Linked DNA regions of Homo sapiens. The protein of the gene in region 1 interacts with the protein of each later gene in a biochemical or structural test. Each region holds a gene or a part of one and is shown in the gene's direction. Other genes may lie near its edges.

Region 1 (7,526 bases):
GTGTCCTATGGCTGTTGAAGTTAAATTAATATGAATATTTCAAGGAAGTCTGAATTTTAAAACAGAAGGGCAGATGTGTTCATTGATGAGCGTGGAAGTAGAGGGAAATTTTTTTGTAAGTCAGGTTTATTAAGGTATCATTTACATGTAGTCTGATTCACCTCTCTTAAGTGGAAAGTTTGATGAGTTTGACAGGTTGTGTTTTTTTCCCTTAACTATTTGCTAATTCAATTATACCTCCAACTTGCCCTACCACCACCACTACCCCTAGACCAAACTGACCTATATTTTGTATCCTTTCTATTTTATATAGTGTACTAAAGGAAGTATACCAAGCCTTTAATCCCAAAGCAGTGGTCTTACAGCTGGGAGCTGACACAATAGCTGGGGATCCCATGTGCTCCTTTAACATGACTCCAGTGGGAATTGGCAAGTGTCTTAAGTACATCCTTCAATGGCAGTTGGCAACACTCATTTTGGGAGGAGGTGAGTATAAAGGAAGGTTACCAGAATTTGTTGACCTTCCTCCACATTTTGTCCATTGGCACTGAACTTGGAAAACTTGGCTTTCTTGCATTGGATAATACCAACCTACCTGAGGCCCAGAAGCCTGAGTCAATAAAATCTGCCACCTCCACAGTTCAGAATAAGAAAATACTCTGACACACTTCTCAGCTTAGCATGTGCATTGACTTCTTGGCACTCTAAAGTCTAAATTTCAATTCCTGAAGCAAAGATCCTCTGGTTAAAGGTTACCTCGAATCTTAAAAATAGAGGATGTTAACCCCGGTAGACTTTGATCCACCTTCTCTCAGTGTAGTCTTTGATTTTCAGTTCTAATAATCATCTTTTGGGAACATGTCACTGAAATTCCAACTCTACTTGTATGTAAGTAGTAAACACACAGATTAATTAAATAAGCTGAATTCAAGAATGCCTCTTCCCCCAAAAAGCATGGATTTGTTACAGTGAAGCAAAATTGAGAGATCTATAGTCTCTTGGGCATTCTTGCCTTTGGTGTGTGCTGATTATTTGTATTACTTAGCCAAAAGAAAGCCCGGTCTATTCAATAGTAGCATTTAAACATTTGAGAAAAGAACTTGTCACAACATCTACCACCTTTAAAGATGCCTTGCTTAAAATCTTCTGTCTACCTACCTGGCACAATCTTTATTTCATTGGATGAATAGATTGGTGTGTTAAAATAACATGGTCAAGCAGATTGAGCTTAAAATGCATATATTATAGAAGAGCTAATTGTTGGTTGTTTTGTCAACCTGTTAGAGGAAATTGTGGGGAGGCCTTATTAAATGAGTGGGCATTCAACACAAGTACACAAGCCTTGTCCTTTGGCAGCCTCAAACTCTAGAAGGCTCAAAATTAAAGGTACTTACAAGAGACAACCTCTTATGAAAAGCTGGCAAGAAATATATTAACTTCAACTGAAGAAAAAGATAAAATTGATAAGTACTGTGTGACATATTACTTTTCTTGACAGCACTAAGGATGGTGATTATGATACAGGTACAGCTAAGGAGGGGGAAGAGACCTTTCTACCATATACATCAGGTTAGAACCTGACTTTTGTTTGAGGCTATAATCTTTACATTAAAAGCCTGTTAGCATTCTCTAAAGCCTTTTTGTTTTCTCAGCCCAAAGTTTTGACATTTGAATATATAAGTCTTCTTAGGAAATATGTGTATTCCTGAAAACGCTTGTGCATAAATGGAATTTTTGCAAATCAAATCATATTGTATATGTACCAGAGATAGTTTACTACCTAAGCAAAACCTATAGTGACCTTTTTTTGAAATTAAATACTCATGCCGAATAAGTCTATCTTATAAAGTCAGATTTTTCCGTGTCAGGAGTATTTAAAGTAATACCTGTACTATCTAACTGAAATTCTCAGCCCTATTAACACACAATTCGTAGAGGGAGCCACATCCCCAAGCTTCAGTGGACCCCATTGAGACCTAAAAGACATAGTCAAAGCATCCGTGACCTTTCAAATAGTAGAAAAGCTTAAGAAAAGAGTGACCATATGTCCGAGTTTATACATGTTATCCCAGTGTAATGATTAATAGTGCCCTCTTTTACTTTTAAAAGTATACCATTTTGTATGATAATTTATATGGTCACCCTATCTAAAATAGACCAGATTCTGTTTCCCTTAGGCTGCGTTGAGATTAGGAAATCATTCCATTTTACCCTTATACTCTTAGAATTTAGCTAAAGGCCAATGTTCTAATGCTTGCATGGCAGAGCACATCTATTCAGCACAAAAATGTGCTGATTATTAGCCAGTATAATATGGCCGTTGGGTGACTGTGACAGGACCTGACGAGATGGGTCAGAGCATCCATCAACGGTCCCTTCCTCATCTCACTCTCTTTGATCTCTGCCACCAGGCCTATGTTTTGTGGCAAAAAGGAATGCTGACATCAAAAGAAGGAAGTCTGTTTTTGTCAGCATTTTCCTTTTCTCTTTCCTGGGTTTTTAGGGCTAGATCTGCCAATAGTTTTAAAAATACAAATCACATTCAGCAGTCATTTTATAGAATTGTTGCAAAATTCATCACAGAAATCTTTCCATTGGGTAGATCACCTCAAGAGATCTGGATTCCAGAGATCTGAGTCTTGCTGATGGCTCTTGATGGAACTGAGGAGTTTGGATTCCTCAGGTACATATTTTTGGGGAGATGGGAGCCTATTTAATCTTTGCAGACCTTGGACTGCCCAGTTTTACACTGTGCATGATTTGACTGGTCCACCAAAGTCTGCCTACTAGGTGGTTTAAAAATATCACAAAGGGGGGATTAGGGGAAATTCTGCAATTTGAGGTTGTCTTTTCTTAAAACATTTTTCTCTCTTTCCTTACCCCCCTTCCCTCTCCTGCTGTTTTATGACTATTCTTTCCTAACTTCACAATTCTTGATGGAGACAGGAGGCTATAACCTTGCCAACACGGCTCGATGCTGGACATACTTGACCGGGGTCATCCTAGGGAAAACACTATCCTCTGAGATCCCAGATCATGAGGTAAGTAAGGCTCTGACAAGTCCTCTCTTCTTTAAGGGGAAGAGCTGAGTCATTCCACCTAATCAAAATCACGTCCTCACCACTCAATACCGTTTTGTTGAGAGACACTTCAATAACAATAACACACTGTCTTGGCAGAATAGTGGACTCTTGTTCCAAAATATCCAAGACCTTCTGCCTTTTTGTTTTTTTACAAGAGATCTCAAAGGCCAACCAACTTTAATTTCTCAATTAATTACAGAGACTGTGGGAAGGGGTCACCTGTTCACACAAAGAATTCTTTGGAATATGTGCATATTTTTATCCCCTAGCCTCAAAAAGGAAGGGGCTATTTTTAAAATGTGTAAGCTGGATTCTCATCTTTTTTTTAAGAAGTTTCATAGGTGGTACGTGGCACATGTTCTTTGGTGGTAGTCCTGATCTCTCAATTTTCTTTGACTAATGTAAAATTCAAGAAACCCACAAGCACTACAAAGACCATTGCTGATGTTTTTCTAGCAATTAGTGGCACACAGAGGCTGGAATAGGACCATCCAAAATGTGAAACGTCATTTGAGCCCTTGCCATTTTCTTTAGTCATACAAGATGGGCTTTATGTTTTCCAAAGCAAAGATGTCTGTTCTAGTTTTCCCAAAACAAGTTCATGGAAAGCTGTCTGGGACCTGTGAGTGTGCTGATAATCCCTAATCCAAAGGCATACCTTTGTTCCTACCTATCACCCCAGTTCCCCTGCAAGTAGGAACCATGTTATAGATCAAGATGTATAACTACGGACCTTAGACTAGATGACTTAAAATAACAAACCAGTACATGCAGCCCCACCTTCTCAAGCTATTTCCCAAGGATTAGGGATGCTGCTTTGGTTTTAATGTTATGATTTCTGCCAGATACAGTAGCTGTACACTTGGGAGCATGATGCTTTTTAAAGTTGCTATTATTTTTTAAAAATTAGAAACAACTTAAACTAATTTCCTTCCAATTTTCTCCTAACCTCAGGTGAGGTACAATATGTATCTCACAAAAACCATTCAATATGTCTAGAATACAAATAGAAGGTACACTATAATTTGAGACAATTTGCTGATGTCAGGGTTAATAGAAGTCTCTTTTCTTGGTTTGTCTTACCTTTATTCAGTATTTGGAAGCTTAATGAAATATAAAGGTAAGTGCTGTGAACAAATGTAATCGCTGTTATTGCTGTGGGAATATCTCAGATTGCATTGTAATTTAAAGCTCTGGGACTTTATAAACTGATCAAGTTATGTCAGAAACAAGTTTTAAGCTGTAGAAGCCTGAACTGAGAATGAATGCTCTATTCCTGAGAAGCAAAAGCAAATCCAAAGTTTCATCTGTGTTAAAAGATTGATAAAATTTTAATAAAGATGAATATCGCCTCTGGTACATGGAGAAGCTGTGGGCCTGAATGGGTGTAAGCTGGGCCTCATAAATAGGTGTTCTGTCTTTATACTGAAATATTCTGTAAGATTAAATGAGATATAATGTATGTCAAGTGCCTAACACGTAGTTCCCTGGAATCTAATAGGCACTTTAAAAATGCAAGTTCTCGGCCGGGCATGGTGGCTTACAGCTGTAATCCCAGCACTTTGGGAGGTCAAGGCAGGCAGATCACTTGAGGTCAGGAGTTTGAGACCAGCCTGGCCAACATGGTGAAAGCCCATCTCTACTAAAGATACAAAAAATTAGCTGGGCGTGGTGGTGCACGCCTGTAATCCCAGCTACTCGGGAGGCTGAGGCAAGCGAATTGCTTGAACCCGGAAGGTGGAGGTTGCAGAGAGCCAAGATCATGCCATTGCACTCCAGCCTAGGTGACAGTGTGACACTCCGTCTCAAAAAAAAGAAAAAAAAATGCAAGTTATCTCCTTCTTCTTTGCATGCTGCTCACTTCTTATACCCAGACATTTATGACTATGTCATTCATAAATTTGTCCAAACCTTTTGTGAATTCCTTCTGTCATATCCTTCTGGTTTAAGAGATGTGAGTCATGCAAGAAAGAACAAAGAATAAAATTGAAATGACAGTCTTACAGGTACAATAAGATAACATTTTAATGAAAATTGCCAAAACTAGGCTACACAGTGTGAAGTCATATAAGTTCTGTGGCACAATACACAGTTGCACACAAATATCCTTGTGGTCCTCTGAAATCAGATTAACAAATGGTAGATCAAAAAATATTTGCTGAGCACCCATTATGTGCCAGACACCATGCTAAATGTCTTAGGAGATGCAAAGAGAGAAATTCATCCCCTACCTCAAGCAGCTAGGGAGGGAGGGTGGTGTAAGTGCTGGGGAGACATGCAAATGCACAGATAGTTATAATACAGAGCAGAAAAAGAATAAGACAGTAGGAAGAGTGACTGTGGAGATGTGCATCAAATATAAAGGGGATACAAAGGAGTACATAAAATACCCTGCCCTCCATGAGCTGAAAATATAATCAAGAAATCTAGTAGGTGAAAAGGTCAAGATAATGCAGTGGTCAGTTGCAGCCGGGCTGACCTCACTCTCTTCGCTCTCAGTCTTGGGCTTTAGTTCTTTCATCTCCTAGGGTAATAATCCTCCTCCTCCAAATGCCCGTTCCCTACTTCTCTATTATCTTCCTAGGTCCAGCTTCAAGTCCTGTGCCCTTCAAAAACCCTTACCTAAATACATCAATCCCCTTTGAGCTCTTCCTTCACGTTCATTTATTCCTTGTTTCATTTAACAATTATGTGTTGGGCCCCTACTATTTGCCAGGCCTTATTGAGACCTGGATTCAGAGATACAAAGACTAATGAGATAATCCCAGTGCCCTCCAAAATCTCACGATCTAATAAAGGTGACAGAACAATGTGCTCACATCCAGGACAGATGAGGACCATAGGGGATATGTTTCAACAAGACTTTGAACTGACTCTTAGAGGCTGATTAGGAGTTCGCTAGGTGAAGAAGAAGAAAAAGGCATTCTAGGCAGAGGGAACAAAGATCAGAAAGGGACTGGTGCCTCATGGGACCAGTGAAAAATTTGCTATGTGTAGATTACAGGGTATATGAGAGACAGTAGGAAGGATTAAGGCTTGAATGGAAGTTAAGGCCAGATTATGAAGAGCCCTGAATGCTACATTAAAGAGCTTACACTTTTTTCTGTGAAAACAAATGAGCTTTAACTTTTAAAAAGCTCAGTTGGTAGAGATAGATTGCAAAGAGGAGAGACTTGAGAAACGCAGACCTGTTAAGAGATTCAAATATATACCTATAACACTTACAGTCTGTGCCATTCATTTGGTCATCATTGTTTTGGTTGTCTGCACCACGCCCCCAACCCTAGTGCTTAGCTGAGTGTTAAGTAGCCACCACCTAGTTGAATAAATGAGTGTTTGAGTAAGTGTCTCAATATTCATATTGGGAAACTTCTATTTTTTTAAGATGAAAGAATTGGAAGCGTAATCTAGCCTTTCTCTGGGAACCCAATTTAACCTTAATAGCAACTTTCCATCCTTTGCAAGAGGTATCAGGTAGCCCAGCTATAGGAAACAGGTGTATCCATGGGAGAACATTATATTACCAATGCAGGGAATGGAGTTCAGAAGGCAGAAGCCCAGCACAAATATTAGAAGTGATAAGGGTAGGACTTCAAGTATAGCGCTCATAAAATATAAAACCGGTGATACCATAAAGCCAGTGATGCCATAAGGCCAGTGATGGCATAAAGCCAGTGATGAGGAAGTTAGTTTCAGCCAGAGCACTGGGGAGCCAGGTTGGCCAGCCAAGCAGTCCCAGCTGGGAAAGCTGAGAAGAATGGAGCTTGTATGTATGATTGGCCCAGATATCTCTACCATAGGGAAAGCCCAAAGGTGTCATGGTACCATGAAAAGACCAGTACATGGCAAATTTAGCACAATCACATGGATTATTATGTATAAAAATGTTCTATAGTCCAGTACTACTATTTAGATCCCGTGACTTATCTAGGATAGAGTAGGGCTGGGGTGTGTGTGTGTGTGTGTGTATGTATATGTGTATCATCACATAGGTTTACTAATGGAAAATATTAACACTACTTAACCAGACTGCTTTTTATGGACTGATTAAACTGTACCTCATTCATATTAGGGAACATATGTAGCCATTAAAAAGAATTAGGTCAATTTATATACAAGTATATGTTACTAATAAAAAAACAGCCTTCTTGCACTGTAACCTGTAGATGGCACTGAATCTATAGATTGATTTGTGCAGGAGTAACATCATAACAATATTTAATCTTTTAAGCCATGAATTTATCTTTCTATTTACTTGAGTCTTCTTTAATTCCAAATTATAATCTGTACTCTCCAGTAAACACATCTTACACAAATATTATTGAATTTATCCCTAAGTACTGTATTTCATTATTTTGATCCTATGTAAATGGTATTTTCATTTCAATTTCCAATAGTTTGTTGCCAGAATATTGAAGGACAATTGACTTTTCATATTGATCT
Region 2 (7,000 bases), on another chromosome or scaffold:
AAAAAAAAAAAAAAAGGCCGGGCACTGTGGCTCATGTAATCCCAGCACTTTGGGAGGCCGAGGCGGGCGGATCATGAGGTCAGGAGATTGAGAACATCCTGGCTAACACGGTGAAACACTGTCTCTACTAAAAATACAAAAAATTAGCTGGGCATGGTGGCGGGCGCCTGTAATCCCAGCTACTTGGGAGGCTGAGGCAGGAGAATGGCGTGAACCCAGGAGGCGGAGGTTGCAGTGAGCCAAGATCACGCCACTGCACTCCAGCCTGGGCGACAGAGTGAGACTCCGTCTCAAAAAAAAAAAAAAAAAGGCTGGGCGCGGTGGCTCATGCCTGTAATCCCAGCACTTTGGGAGGCCGAGACGGGCGGATCACCTGAGGTCAGGAGTTTGAGACCAGCCTGACCAATGTGATGAAACCCCGTCTCTACTGAAAATACAAAAATTAGCCAAGCATGGTGGCATGCGCCTGTCATCCCACTCAAGAGGCTGAGACAGGAGAATTGCTTGAACCTGGGAGGCAGAGGTTGCAATGAGCCCAGATCGCGCCATTGCACTCTAGCCTGCGCAACAAAAGTGAAACTCCACCTCAAAAAACAAAAACAAAAACAAAAACAAAAAAACCCAAAAACGCTGGGCTTGGTGGCTCATGGCCTGTAATCCCAGCACTTTGGGAGGCTGAGGCAGACGGATCACGAGGTCAGGAGTTCGAGACCAGCCTGGCCAACATGGTAAAACCCCGTCTCTACTAAAAATACAAAAATTAGCCGGGCGTGGTGGTGAGTGCCTGTAATCCCACTACTTGGGAGGCTGAGGCAGGAGAATTGCTTGAACCCGGGAGGCAGAGGTTGCAGTGAGCTGAGATCATGCCACAGCACTCTAGTCTGGGCAACAGAATGAGACACTCTCATCTCAAAAAAAAAAAAAAAAGGACTTACAGGCATGTCTGCTCTTAAAAGTCACTAATTTTTTTCTCACTCAGGAAAGCTTATCAGAATTTGGGGGAATGAGCAAGATGCTGACATTAAGCATTGCCTGGGAAGGGCCTATTATTTCCGTTATTTCTGCTTTTATGTAACCATTGGTTACTTTGGGGGCTATAACACGTATAATTAAAAAAAAAAAAAAAAAGGCCAAGTGTGGTGGCTCACACCTGTAATCTCAGCACTTTCGGAGGCTAAGATGGGAGGATCACAAGGTCAGGAGTTCGAGACCAGCCTGGCCAACATGGTGAAACCCTGTCTGTACTAGAAATACAAAAATTAGCCAGGTGTCGTGGTGGGTGCCTGTAGTCCCAGCTACTCAGGAGGCTGAGGCAGGAGAATTGCTGGAACCCAGGAGGCAGAGGTTGGAGTTAGCCAAGATCGTGCCACTGCACTCCCAGCCTGGGTGACAGAGTGAGAGTTCGTATCAAAAAAAAAAAAAAAAAAAAAATCTTGAGTGCTTACCTTGTGCTAGGCACTGTATTCTTTTATGATCTCAGTTAGTCCCCACAGCAACCCTATAAGGTGTCAGTACTGTTATAACTGAAACTAAGAGAGGCATTTGAAACTTTGTTGAAGTCTCACAACTAGGAAATGGCAGAACCAAGATTTGAACTTGGGTCAGTATAGGTCCAGAGCTGAGCTCTTCAATGTTAGACTGCTTCCTCTGCTTATTACTAATAACACCGAACTTTGGACAGACGCTGAATGACTGATTGTGACATTCCAGCACGTTTTTTTTTTTTTTTTTGAGACAGTCTCGTGTGGTCGCCCAGGCTGGAGTGCAGTGGCACGATCTCGGCTCACTGCAAGCTCCGCCTCCCGGGTTCACACCATTCTCCTGCCTCAGCCTCCTGAGTAGCTGGGACTACAGGTGCCCGCCACCACGCCTGGCTAATTTTTTGTACTTTTAGTAGAGACGGGGTTTCAGCGTGTTAGCCAAGATGGTCTTGATTTCCTGACCTCGAGATCCACCTGCCTTGGACTCCCAAAGTGCTGGGATTACAGGCGTGAGCCACTGCTCCTGGCCAGGTTTTTTTTTTTTTTTTTTTTTTTTTTGAGATGGAGTTTTGCTCTTGTTGTCCAGGCTGGAGTGCAACGGCCTGCAGTCGTGGTTCACTGCAACCTCTGCCTCCCGGGTTCAAGCCATTCACCTGCCTCAGCCTCCCAAGTAGCTGGGATTACAGGCGCCTGCCACCATGCCCGGCTAATTTTTGTGTTTTTAGTAGGGATGGGGTTTCACCATGTTGGCCAGGCTGGCCTCAAACTCCTGACCTCAGGCGATCTGCCCTCCTCGGGCTTCCAAAGTGCTGGGATTATAGGTGTGAGCCACTGCACCCCGCCAATCCAGCAAGTTTTAACTTGGCCAAAATCCACCAATCTTAAACTTTGTGCACCCTTCCCACTCTGAAGAACAGTGAGCCAGCCGGCCAGGGTGCGGGTATCTCCTACCTACCCTGGGGCCCCTCACTGTATGTTGACTATTGACAAATATTTATTGTGTGCTGGCTGTGAATAGGACTTGTATATTGAGCACTTAGGTGTCATGAACCATGCTGGATGTTTTGACCATATTATCCCCTTTAATTCTCACGACCCAACTCTGTGGGGCACTTTTACAGCTGGGAAACTGAGGGTTCAAGGGGTTAGGTATGGGACTTGCCCAAGGTCATAAAGGTATGTGGTAGCCAGAGTCCCTGTTCGGCACAGACCTGTTCTTTGCTGTCCTGGCCAGTGTTCCAGGCCTTGGGGACATAGCTGGGGCTGAAGCAGGGCTGTTTCTGCCCTCAGGCAGTTTACATCCTGGCAGAGGGGAGAGCTGGGCAACAGTGAGTTGCACAGACTTGTCTTATTACCGCTGTGGTATGTGCAGGAAGGGGAGGTGCTGGTTCTGAGGCTCCAGAGGGCTTGTCTTTTTTTTTTTTTTTTTGAGACGGAGTCTCGCTTTGTTGCCCAGGCTAGAGTCCAGTGGCGCGATCTCGGCTCAGTGCAAGCTCCGCCTCCCGGGTTCAAGCGATTCTCCTGCCTCAGCCTCCCCAATAGCTGGGATTACAGGCGCATGGCACCACGCACGGCTAATTTTGGTATTTTTAGTAGAGACTGGGTTTCACCATGTTAGCCAGGATGGTCTCGATCTCCTGACCTCGTGATCCACCCGCCTCGGCCTCCCAAAGTGCTGGGATTACGCTCCCGGCCTCTTTTTTTTTTTAGACAGAGTCTCACTCTGTTGCCAGGCTATAGTACAGTGGCACGATCTCAGCTTACTGCAACCTCCGCCTCCCAGGTTCAAGCGATTGTTCTCCCTCAGCCTCCCGAGTAGCTGGGACTACAGGCACACGCCCAGCTAATTTTTGTATTTTTAGTAGAGACAGGGTTTCACCGTGTTGGTCAGGCTGGTCTCAAACTCCTCACCTCGTGATCTGCCTGCCTCGGCCTCCCAAAGTGCTGGGATTATAGGCGTGAGCCACTGCGCCTGGCCTTTTTTTTTTTTTGGTACAGAGTTTCGCTCTGGTTGCCCAGGCTGGAGTGCAATGGCACGATCTTGGCTCACTGCAGCCTCTGCCTCCCGGGTTCAAGCGATTCTCCTGCCTCAGCCTCCGGAGCAGCTGGGATTACAGACATGCACCACCATGTCCGGCTAATTTTTTTTTTTCGAGATGGAGTCTCACTGTGTCACCCAGGCTGGAGTGCAGTGGCACAATCTCGGCTCACTGCAACCTCTGCCTCCCGGGTTCAAGCGATTCTCCTGCCTCAGCCTCCTGAGTAGCTGGGACTACAGGTGCCTGCCACCACACCCAGCTAATTTTTGTACTTTTAGTAGAGACGGGGTTTTACCATGTTGGCCAGGCTGGTCTTGAACTTCTGACCTCAGGTGATCCACCCACCTCGGTCTCCCAAAGTGCTGGGATTACAGGCGTGAGCCACCGTGCCCGGCCGTGGTGTCTTGAGCTGAGTGCAGAAGCGCAAATAGGGGGTAGGAGAAAATGCACCGCGAGGAGAAATGTGCTGCGGGCCTGCTGTCTAGCTGTGTCATTTGGTCGTTGCGGGGCCCTGTGAGGCCGGGAGGGCTGCCAGCACCCACCATGTGCCAGGCCTCGTTGCTAGTGCTGGGGCCAGTTCCTGCCCCGGTGGAGCTGCCACTGAAGGGGGAGGCGTAATAAACAAGATAGGTGAGTGCATATGCAGCGTGGTCTGTTGTGCTGAGGGCTGAAGAGAAACCAGAAGCAGGGCTCAGAGGCCAGGAGGACTCTGCAAAGGGATTTGGCATTATCACAGGGTGGCCAGGGAAGATCTTCAAGGTGACAGTGAGCAGAGGGAGGTGAGGGAGCCTGTGTGGACTTCAGGACTAGAGCTCCAGGCAGGGCCTGTTTGAGGAACATGGAGGAGGCGAGAGCAAGGAGTAGAGGTCAAAAGGAGGCAAGAAGCAGGGGCGTAGGCCTAGGAGGACATAGGTTCGCTTTGGCTTGGACTCAGAGAAGGGAAATCCCCAGAGGGTTTTGAGAAGAGGAGGTACAGGATGTAATGGAGGCTTAATAGGACCCTCTTGGCTGCTGAGTCGAGAACAGACTGGAGCAAGCAGGGACAGCCAAGCGAGGGGCGAGGTGACAGTGACTATCAGGTCAAGGGTGGAAGTAGTTGCCAGGGGCAGGAGGCGGATTCTGGACCTTGGAGGAGGTAAAGCCCACCAGAATGTGTCGGTGGCTTGGATGTGGGGTGTGAGAGGAACCAGAGATTCTGCCTAGGTTTCTTCTTGGGCAAGTGAACACGTGGAGTCCACGTAGGCTGTGTTCGGTCCGAGATGCCTTCTAGACATGCAGGATGTCAAGGAGGCAGCTGGAGAGATGGGTCTGGAGCTCACAGCAAGTCCAGGCTAGAGGTAGAAACGTGAGAGCCCCACGGCTGGGGAAGATTGCCATGGGATTGGAGATGAGCTCCAAGGACAGCCCTGGCAGTCTGGATGGAAGAGCTTGGGAAGATGCTCAGAAACCACAAAGTGGCTGGTGCGGTGGGAGGAAAACCAGAGTGTATGCTGTCCTAGAAGCAAAAGAAGAAAGTGTTTCAGTGTTTCTAGGAGCAGGAAGTGATCAACAGCCTTAGATCCTCCTTTTAGGCCAAGTAACATGAGGACTAAGAATTGACCACTGGATTTAGCAATGCAGAGGTCCTTGTGGCCCTTGATGTCGGCAGATGAGGGCAGTGTGGTCCAGAGATGAGGCTTGGGGCTGAGATGCAGCCCCGCTGCCTGGTCCAGCTCCTCCCTCATCCAGGCAGGGCTCCCCCGCCCAGCAGCCACTCCCCTCCCTGCCTGCTCATGGCCCCCTGCTCTCCCTTTCCTCCCCATACCCCCAGACCTGTGCTTGCCCGGGGAGAGTCAGGGCTCTCCTGTCAGCTGGGTCCCCTCCCAGCCCCGGGAGGCCGCCACTGGAGCCCTGCCTCTTCCTGGCAGGGAGCATCGAGTACAGCTGTCCGGCCTCCAACGAGTGTGAGATCACCAAGCGGAGACGCAAGGCCTGCCAGGCCTGCCGCTTCACCAAGTGCCTGCGGGTGGGCATGCTCAAGGAGGGTGAGCGCTGGGCAGGGGCTGGGCGAGGGCTGGGGGAGTCGGGGACCCGGGCCAGGTGGGGGTGAGGCCTGGGAGTTCTGGTGAGTGGACTCGGGGAGGACAGCTCTGGAGAGCAAGCCCCACCCTGCCCACAGCACCACAGTCACAGTCCTATCTGTCCCACAATTCAAGGAGTGCGCCTGGACCGCGTCCGGGGTGGGCGGCAGAAGTACAAGCGGCGGCCGGAGGTGGACCCACTGCCCTTCCCGGGCCCCTTCCCTGCTGGGCCCCTGGCAGTCGCTGGAGGCCCCCGGAAGACAGGTGAGAGCACTGTGGGTACCTGGGGCTACGAAACCGGAGGCCTATGTGTGGCATCATAGTTACCTTGGGCACTGGGACCTGTATTTCCCCTTCGTCTCTTCACTCACTCATTTCCCCAAGACATGTGAAACTGCCTTTTCCTGCATCAGGAAAAGTAGTAGAACTGGGAACAGGGACGATTTTCCAACACTCACAGCCTGTCCACAAACACACGGGCTTTCCCTGGGAGACAGTTAGCGCTCTTCCCTGGAGGGAAGTCACTGGACAGCTGCTACTGAGGAAGGCCACAGGGGGAGCCACTGTGGGAAGATGCTTGACCCCTGAGGCCTGACAGATTCGAGTGCTCCTGACTCTTGTCCTCTAATTGTCACAGCAGCCCCAGTGAATGCACTGGTGTCTCATCTGCTGGTGGTTGAGCCTGAGAAGCTCTATGCCATGCCTGACCCCGCAGGCCCTGATGGGCACCTCCCAGCCGTGGCTACCCTCTGTGACCTCTTTGACCGAGAGATTGTGGTCACCATCAGCTGGGCCAAGAGCATCCCAGGTAAAGGGCCCAGGTGACCCGGGGCTGCCCTGAACGGGCCCGGCTCTGGTGCGCTTGCTCAGCCAGGCCCGCTCCCCGCTGCCCCCTAGGCTTCTCATCGCTGTCGCTGTCTGACCAGATGTCAGTACTGCAGAGCGTGTGGATGGAGGTGCTGGTGCTGGGTGTGGCCCAGCGCTCACTGCCACTGCAGGATGAGCTGGCCTTCGCTGAGGACTTAGTCCTGGATGAAGAGGGGGCACGGGCAGCTGGCCTGGGGGAACTGGGGGCTGCCCTGCTGCAACTAGTGCGGCGGCTGCAGGCCCTGCGGCTGGAGCGAGAGGAGTATGTTCTACTAAAGGCCTTGGCCCTTGCCAATTCAGGTGAGTCTGGGGCAGGCACTGACAGGTGAGGTGTCTCCGTAAGGTCTTCAGGTTAACTCAGTGACGGTAGCACAGCCCCATTTTGCAGATAACGAAAACTGAGGCTTAGGGAAGAACAATGACTTGCTAGAAGTCAAAAAGCAAGCCAAGTGCAGGCTCCAAACTGCACACAGGATTTTGAGCCCTAGTGCCACACTAATGCAGAAAGGTCATTTAGTGGGAGGGAAGGTGGGGAGGGTACAAGGTGGCCACA
Region 3 (7,000 bases), on another chromosome or scaffold:
CAGTTTTCTTCCATTTTTGTCACGCCTTGATTGGCTTCTATTCCTTTATCCTCGGCACCCGTTGTTTTCCATATCTGTTTCCTAAGTTGTATCTCCTACCTGACTCAAAAGAAAGACCCTTCGTGTTTCTTCTTTCTTTGCCCCAGCCATCCTTTTCCTTACCATCATCCACGTGTGGAGAACACTATAGTAGCATTATGGAGACAGGTCTGTGGGAAAAAGGTAGCTTCCCAGGTAGATCCCAGTCTAATGGAGGAGAGATCATAGACAGAAAGGAAAATCCAGTGAGCATATTTTTTGTTTTTGTTCTTTTTTGAGACAGAGTCTGTCTCTGTCACCCAGGCTGGAGTGTGCAGTGGCGTGATCTCAGCTTACTGTAACCTCCGTCTCTTGGGTTCAAACAATTTTCCTGCCGCAGCCTCCCAAGTAGCTGGGACTACAGGCGCATGTCACCCGGCTAATTTTTGTGTATTTTTTTGTTTTTTTTGAGACAGTCTCACTCTGTCACCCAGGCTGGAGTGCAGTGGCGCGATCTTGGCTCACTGCAACCTCTGCCTCCCGGGTTCAAGCGACTCTCCTCCCTCAGCCTCCCAGGTAGCTGGGACTACTAGGCGCCTGCCAACACACCTAGCTAATTTTTTTTTTTTTTTTTTTTTTTTTTAGACAGAGTCTTGCTCTGTCCCCCAGGCTGGAGTGCAGTGGCACCATCTCGGCTCACTGCAAGCTCCGCCTCCCGAGTTCACGCCATTCTCCTGCCTCAGCCTTCCAAGTAGCTGGGACTACAGGCGCCCGCCACCACGCCCGGCTAATTTTTTGTATTTTTTAGTAGAGACGGGGTTTCACCGTGTTAGCCAGGATGGTCTCGGTTTCCTGACCTTGTGATCCACCCGCCTCGGCCTCCCAAAGTGCTGGGATTACAGGCATCAGCCACCATGCCTGGCCTTTTTTTTTGTATTTTTAGTAGAGACGGGGTTTCACTATGTTGGCCAGGCTGGTCTTGAACTCCTGACCTCGTGATCCGCCCGCCTCGGCCTCCCAAAGTGCTGGGATTATAGCCGTGAGCCACCACGCCCGGTGGAAATCTGGTAAGCCTATCTAACCATAAACAAGTATCAAGAACAGTATCCAAGTTCTATCTCTTTTCTCCACCTCCTCCCCCTCACTTGCTTCTGTTTCTCCCTAGGGCGATCAGGAATCTCCAGATGCTTGTCTGCCTCCTACAGTACCTGAAGCCCCAGCCCCACCCCAAAAGCCCCTTAACTCTCAGAGCCAGAAACATCTTGCACCTCCGCCCCTTCTTTCTCCCCTTTTACCTTCTATCAAGCCAACCGTTCGTAAGACCAGGCAAGATGGGAGTCAGGAAGCTCCAGAGGCTCCCTTGTCCTCAGAGCTGGAGCCTTTCCACCCAAAGCCTAAAATTAGAACTCGGAAGTCCTCCAGAATGACACCCTTTCCAGCTACCTCTGCTGCCCCTGAGCCCCACCCTTCCACCTCCACAGCCCAGCCAGTCACTCCCAAGCCCACATCTCAGGCCACTAGGAGCAGGACAAATAGGTCCTCTGTCAAGACCCCTGAACCAGTTGTCCCCACAGCCCCTGAGCTCCAGCCTTCCACCTCCACAGACCAGCCTGTCACCTCTGAGCCCACATCTCAGGTTACTAGGGGAAGAAAAAGTAGATCCTCTGTCAAGACCCCTGAAACAGTTGTGCCCACAGCCCTTGAGCTCCAGCCTTCCACCTCCACCGACCGACCTGTCACCTCTGAACCCACCTCTCAGGCTACTAGGGGAAGAAAAAATAGATCCTCTGTCAAGACCCCTGAACCAGTTGTCCCCACAGCCCCTGAGCTCCAGCCTTCCACCTCCACAGACCAGCCTGTCACTTCTGAGCCCACATATCAGGCTACTAGGGGAAGAAAAAATAGATCCTCTGTCAAGACCCCTGAACCAGTTGTGCCCACAGCCCCTGAGCTCCGGCCTTCCACCTCCACAGACCGACCTGTCACCCCCAAGCCCACATCTCGGACCACTAGGAGCAGGACAAATATGTCCTCTGTCAAGACCCCTGAAACAGTTGTCCCCACAGCCCCTGAGCTCCAGATTTCCACCTCCACAGACCAACCTGTCACCCCTAAGCCCACATCTCGGACCACTAGGAGCAGGACAAATATGTCCTCTGTGAAGAACCCTGAATCAACTGTCCCTATAGCCCCTGAGCTCCCACCTTCCACCTCCACAGAGCAGCCTGTCACCCCTGAGCCCACATCTCGGGCTACTAGGGGAAGAAAAAATAGATCCTCTGGCAAGACCCCTGAAACACTTGTCCCCACAGCCCCTAAGCTCGAGCCTTCCACTTCCACAGACCAACCTGTCACTCCTGAGCCCACATCTCAGGCCACCAGGGGCAGGACAAATAGGTCCTCTGTGAAGACCCCTGAAACAGTTGTCCCCACAGCCCCTGAGCTCCAGCCTTCCACCTCCACAGACCAGCCTGTTACCCCTGAGCCTACGTCTCAGGCTACTAGGGGAAGAACAGATAGATCCTCTGTCAAGACTCCTGAAACAGTTGTCCCCACAGCCCCTGAGCTACAGGCTTCCGCCTCCACAGACCAGCCTGTCACCTCTGAGCCCACATCTCGGACCACTAGGGGAAGAAAAAATCGGTCCTCTGTCAAGACCCCTGAAACAGTTGTGCCCGCAGCCCCTGAGCTCCAGCCTTCCACCTCCACAGACCAACCTGTCACCCCTGAGCCCACATCTCGGGCCACTAGGGGCAGGACAAATAGGTCCTCTGTCAAGACCCCTGAATCAATTGTCCCTATAGCCCCTGAGCTTCAGCCTTCCACCTCCAGAAACCAGCTTGTCACCCCTGAGCCCACATCTCGGGCCACTAGGTGCAGGACAAATAGGTCCTCTGTCAAGACCCCTGAGCCAGTTGTCCCCACAGCCCCTGAGCCCCATCCTACCACCTCCACAGACCAGCCTGTCACCCCCAAGCTCACATCTAGGGCCACTAGGAGAAAGACAAATAGGTCCTCTGTCAAGACTCCCAAACCAGTTGAACCAGCAGCCTCTGATCTTGAGCCTTTTACCCCCACAGACCAGTCCGTCACCCCTGAGGCCATAGCTCAGGGTGGTCAGAGCAAAACACTGAGGTCTTCCACAGTAAGAGCTATGCCGGTTCCTACCACCCCTGAATTCCAATCTCCTGTCACCACAGACCAGCCTATTTCCCCTGAGCCTATTACTCAACCCAGTTGCATCAAGAGGCAGAGAGCCGCTGGGAACCCTGGCTCCCTCGCAGCTCCCATTGACCATAAGCCTTGCTCTGCACCCTTGGAACCTAAATCCCAGGCCTCAAGGAACCAAAGATGGGGAGCAGTGAGAGCAGCTGAATCCCTTACAGCCATTCCTGAGCCTGCCTCTCCCCAGCTTCTTGAGACACCAATTCATGCCTCCCAGATCCAAAAGGTGGAACCAGCAGGTAGATCTAGGTTCACCCCGGAGCTCCAGCCTAAGGCCTCTCAAAGCCGCAAGAGGTCTTTAGCTACCATGGATTCACCACCACATCAAAAACAGCCCCAAAGAGGGGAAGTCTCCCAGAAGACAGTGATTATCAAGGAAGAGGAAGAAGATACTGCAGAGAAGCCAGGGAAGGAAGAGGTGAGGAGAGGGTTGGGACCACAAAGCTGGGAAAAATGACTTCAGGGCTCTGAAACTCCCACCAAGATTTTTCTCAATCTCAGGATGTCGTGACTCCAAAACCAGGCAAGAGAAAGAGAGACCAGGCAGAGGAGGAGCCCAACAGAATACCAAGCCGCAGCCTCCGACGGACCAAACTTAACCAAGAATCAACAGCCCCCAAAGTAAGAGACAAAGGCATGGGACTTTGTGGGAGACAGAGATGAGGGGAGGATGCAAGGAGACCTAGAGGATTGTAGAGATGGGTGCTGATGGCATGGGTTGCCGTAACCACCTCAGGTCAACCCTTCCACAGGTGCTCTTCACAGGAGTGGTGGATGCTCGGGGAGAGCGGGCTGTGCTGGCACTGGGGGGAAGTCTGGCTGGTTCAGCGGCAGAGGCTTCCCACCTGGTCACTGATCGCATCCGCCGGACAGTCAAGTTCCTGTGTGCCCTGGGGCGGGGAATCCCCATTCTGTCCCTGGACTGGCTGCATCAGGTGAGAGGCCAAGGGATGATGACAGACCGATATAGTGGCAAGACTGCTCATATAGTGCCCTAGAAAGTGGTGGAAGGGAAGAGGCGTTACAGGAAGACAGGGGCATTGGTGAGCCAGAAGCCTGCATTGATTTAAAAGACATTTTGTGAGCTCTCTCTAAATGCTAGGCAGCAGAGCTGATTGAGGGGCTGGGCTGAGCTTTGATGCTGACTGCTGCCGTCCTTAGTCCCGCAAGGCTGGTTTCTTCTTACCCCCGGATGAATATGTGGTGACCGACCCTGAGCAAGAGAAGAACTTTGGCTTTAGCCTTCAAGACGCACTGAGCAGGGCTCGGGAGCGAAGGCTGCTAGAGGTGAGAGGCTATCTTTTAACCTGTGCTTCAGCCCTCCCTCCAGTGCTTCCCAATCTACAATACCATCTCCATCATTTCTTTCTCTTAGGGCTATGAGATCTATGTGACCCCTGGAGTCCAGCCACCACCACCTCAGATGGGAGAGATTATTAGCTGCTGTGGAGGCACATACCTACCCAGCATGCCTCGGTCCTATAAGGTATGCTTAGGATGTTCTGGGTCTGGGTGAGGTGGCAGTGGCAGTTAAAGAGGTGGCTGGAATGGCAAAGATTGGAGGGAAAAAAATGGAGGTTCAGAAAGGAATATAAAGTAGTGAGAGGGTGGGGGAAAAGACCTATGGTATAGAAAGGGATAGGAATGAGGGGACAGATCTGCTGATACCCCCATATAACAATCACCGAGATTCAGCAGCAGCTTAATTTAGATTATGCTACATTTGCTCCATCTATCCCTTTTTTCCTTTGATTTTCTTTTTTTTTTTTTTTTTTTTTTTTTGAGATGGAGTCTCACTCTCAGGCTGGAGTGCAGTGGCACAATCTCGGCTCACTACAATCTCCGCCTCCTGGGTTCACACCATTCTCCTGCCTCAGCCTCCCGAGTAGCTGGGACTACAGGTGCCCGCCACCACGCCCGGCTAATTCTTTTGTATTTTTAGTAGAGATGGGGTTTCACTGTGTTAGCCAGGATGGTCTTGATCTCCTGAGGTCATGATCTGCCCGCCTCGGCCTCTCAAAGTGCTGGGATTACAGGCGTGAGCCACCGCGCCCGGCTTTTTCCTTTGATTTTCTTTGCTGAAGTATTTCATTTCTTTTTATTTTTCTTTATTCTTTCTTTTTTTCCTTTCTCTTTCTTTGCTGAAATATTTTAAAGCAAACTGCCAATATTATATTATTTCTTCCTACATACTTAAATATATATCTCTAAGAAATACGTACATTTTATTTCATAATCACAATGCCATTATTGATCCTAAGCAAAATTAACAGTAGTTTATTGGTCATTTGCTCACACTCCATTAATAAAATTTCTCCCATTGTCTGAAAAATGTCTCTATACAGTTGTTCAAATCAGGATTCAAATAAGGTCCACATACTGCCACACCTATTATCTTCTTAATTATCTTTACTCTAGAGCATCCCTTAACCCACCCAGCTTTTTTTATGCCATCTATTTCCTGCAGAAGCTGGGTCACTTGTCCTTTAGAATGTTCCTCAGTCTGGAATTTTGGGTTTGCCTCCTTGTCATATAATTTATCTTGTTCCTCTGTACTCCATATTTCCTGGAAATTGCAGATAATTGTAAAAGCTTGAATAAATTCAGGTTCATCTTTCTAGCAAAAGTATTTTTTTTTTTTGAGAGAGTCTCACTCTGTCGCCAGGCTGGAGTACAGTGGAGCAGTCTTGGCTCACTGCAACCTCCATCTCCCGGGTTCAAGCTGTTCTCCTGCCTCAACCTCCCGAGTAGCTGGGACTACAGGCGCACACCACCACGCCCAGCTAATTTTTTTATTTTTACTAAAGACGGGGTTTCACCATGTTGGCCAGGATGGTCTCGATCTCTTGACCTCGTGATCCACCCACCTCGGCCTCCCAAAGTGCTGGGATTATAGGCGTGAGCCACTGTGCCTGGCCTCTAGCAAGAGTATTTCTTTTTTTTTTTTCTTTTTTTTTTTCTTTTGAGATGGAGTCTTGCTCTGTAGCCCAGGCTGGAGTGCAGTGGCGCGATCTCGGCTCACTGCAAGCTCCGCCTCCTGGGTTTTCACGCCATTCTCCTGCCCCAGCCTCCCGAGTAGCTGGGACGACAGGCACCCGTCAGCGCGCCCGGCTAATTTTTTTTTTTTTTTTTTTTTGTATTTTTAGTAGAGACAGGGTTTCACCGTGGTCTTGATCTCCTGACCTCGTGATCCACCCGCCTCAGCCTCCCAAAGTGCTGTGTAATTACAGGCATGAGCCACTGCGCCCGGCCTAGCAAGAGTATTTCATAGACAGTATGCGGTGTGCTTCACTTGGCTTCATATTAGGAGGTATTATTTTAGTGATGGTAAGACTGGTTAGTGGGTCCTGAACCCATTTCTAGGATTCTTTTTCACCTGATTTTGCCTTTGCTCTGTCTTCCCCAGCCTCAGAGAGTTGTGATCACATGCCCTCAGGACTTCCCTCATTGCTCCATTCCACTACGGGTTGGGCTGCCCCTCCTCTCGCCTGAGTTCCTGCTGACTGGAGTGCTGAAGCAGGAAGCCAAGCCAGAGGCCTTTGTCCTCTCCCCTTTGGAGATGTCATCCACCTGAGAACTCCACTACCCTTTTCCCTCCCAGACCACGAATTAGAAGATATGTGGAAGAAAGAACTCAGGGCGTTAGAAAGGATTGGGGTATATTGATACAACTTGTCCTGGAACATGGGTGGGACCAGAAATCTTTATGAATAAATGAAAAGATAAGGGATTTGGAAGCCACAGGTTGTTTTTTGTT

The links.
Region 2: the proteins of HDAC8 (region 1) and ESRRA form a complex in vitro, tested with the Homo sapiens proteins (one study listed by BioGRID).
Region 3: the proteins of HDAC8 (region 1) and MDC1 interact in a test that uses a peptide from one of them, tested with the Homo sapiens proteins (one study listed by BioGRID).

Annotation. Positions count from the first base shown.
Region 1 is NC_000023.11:72,457,519-72,465,044, reverse strand, and holds part of HDAC8 (histone deacetylase 8), read left to right. Parts: intron 1-313; coding exon 314-486; intron 487-2,942; coding exon of another isoform or gene 2,943-2,946; coding exon 2,947-3,041; exon of another isoform or gene 3,042-7,526. UniProt on the Homo sapiens protein: Histone deacetylase that catalyzes the deacetylation of lysine residues on the N-terminal part of the core histones (H2A, H2B, H3 and H4).
Region 2 is NC_000011.10:64,308,524-64,315,523, forward strand, and holds part of ESRRA (steroid hormone receptor ERR1), read left to right. Parts: intron 1-5,330; coding exon of another isoform or gene 5,331-5,427; coding exon 5,428-5,544; intron 5,545-5,715; coding exon 5,716-5,844; intron 5,845-6,217; coding exon 6,218-6,388; intron 6,389-6,477; coding exon 6,478-6,747; intron 6,748-7,000. UniProt on the Homo sapiens protein: Binds to an ERR-alpha response element (ERRE) containing a single consensus half-site, 5'-TNAAGGTCA-3'. Can bind to the medium-chain acyl coenzyme A dehydrogenase (MCAD) response element NRRE-1 and may act as an important regulator of MCAD promoter.
Region 3 is NC_000006.12:30,700,282-30,707,281, reverse strand, and holds part of MDC1 (mediator of DNA damage checkpoint protein 1), read left to right. Parts: intron 1-1,183; coding exon 1,184-3,661; intron 3,662-3,744; coding exon 3,745-3,864; intron 3,865-3,995; coding exon 3,996-4,178; exon of another isoform or gene 4,179-4,215; intron 4,216-4,404; coding exon 4,405-4,530; intron 4,531-4,618; coding exon 4,619-4,729; intron 4,730-6,649; coding exon 6,650-6,817; 3' UTR 6,818-7,000. UniProt on the Homo sapiens protein: Histone reader protein required for checkpoint-mediated cell cycle arrest in response to DNA damage within both the S phase and G2/M phases of the cell cycle.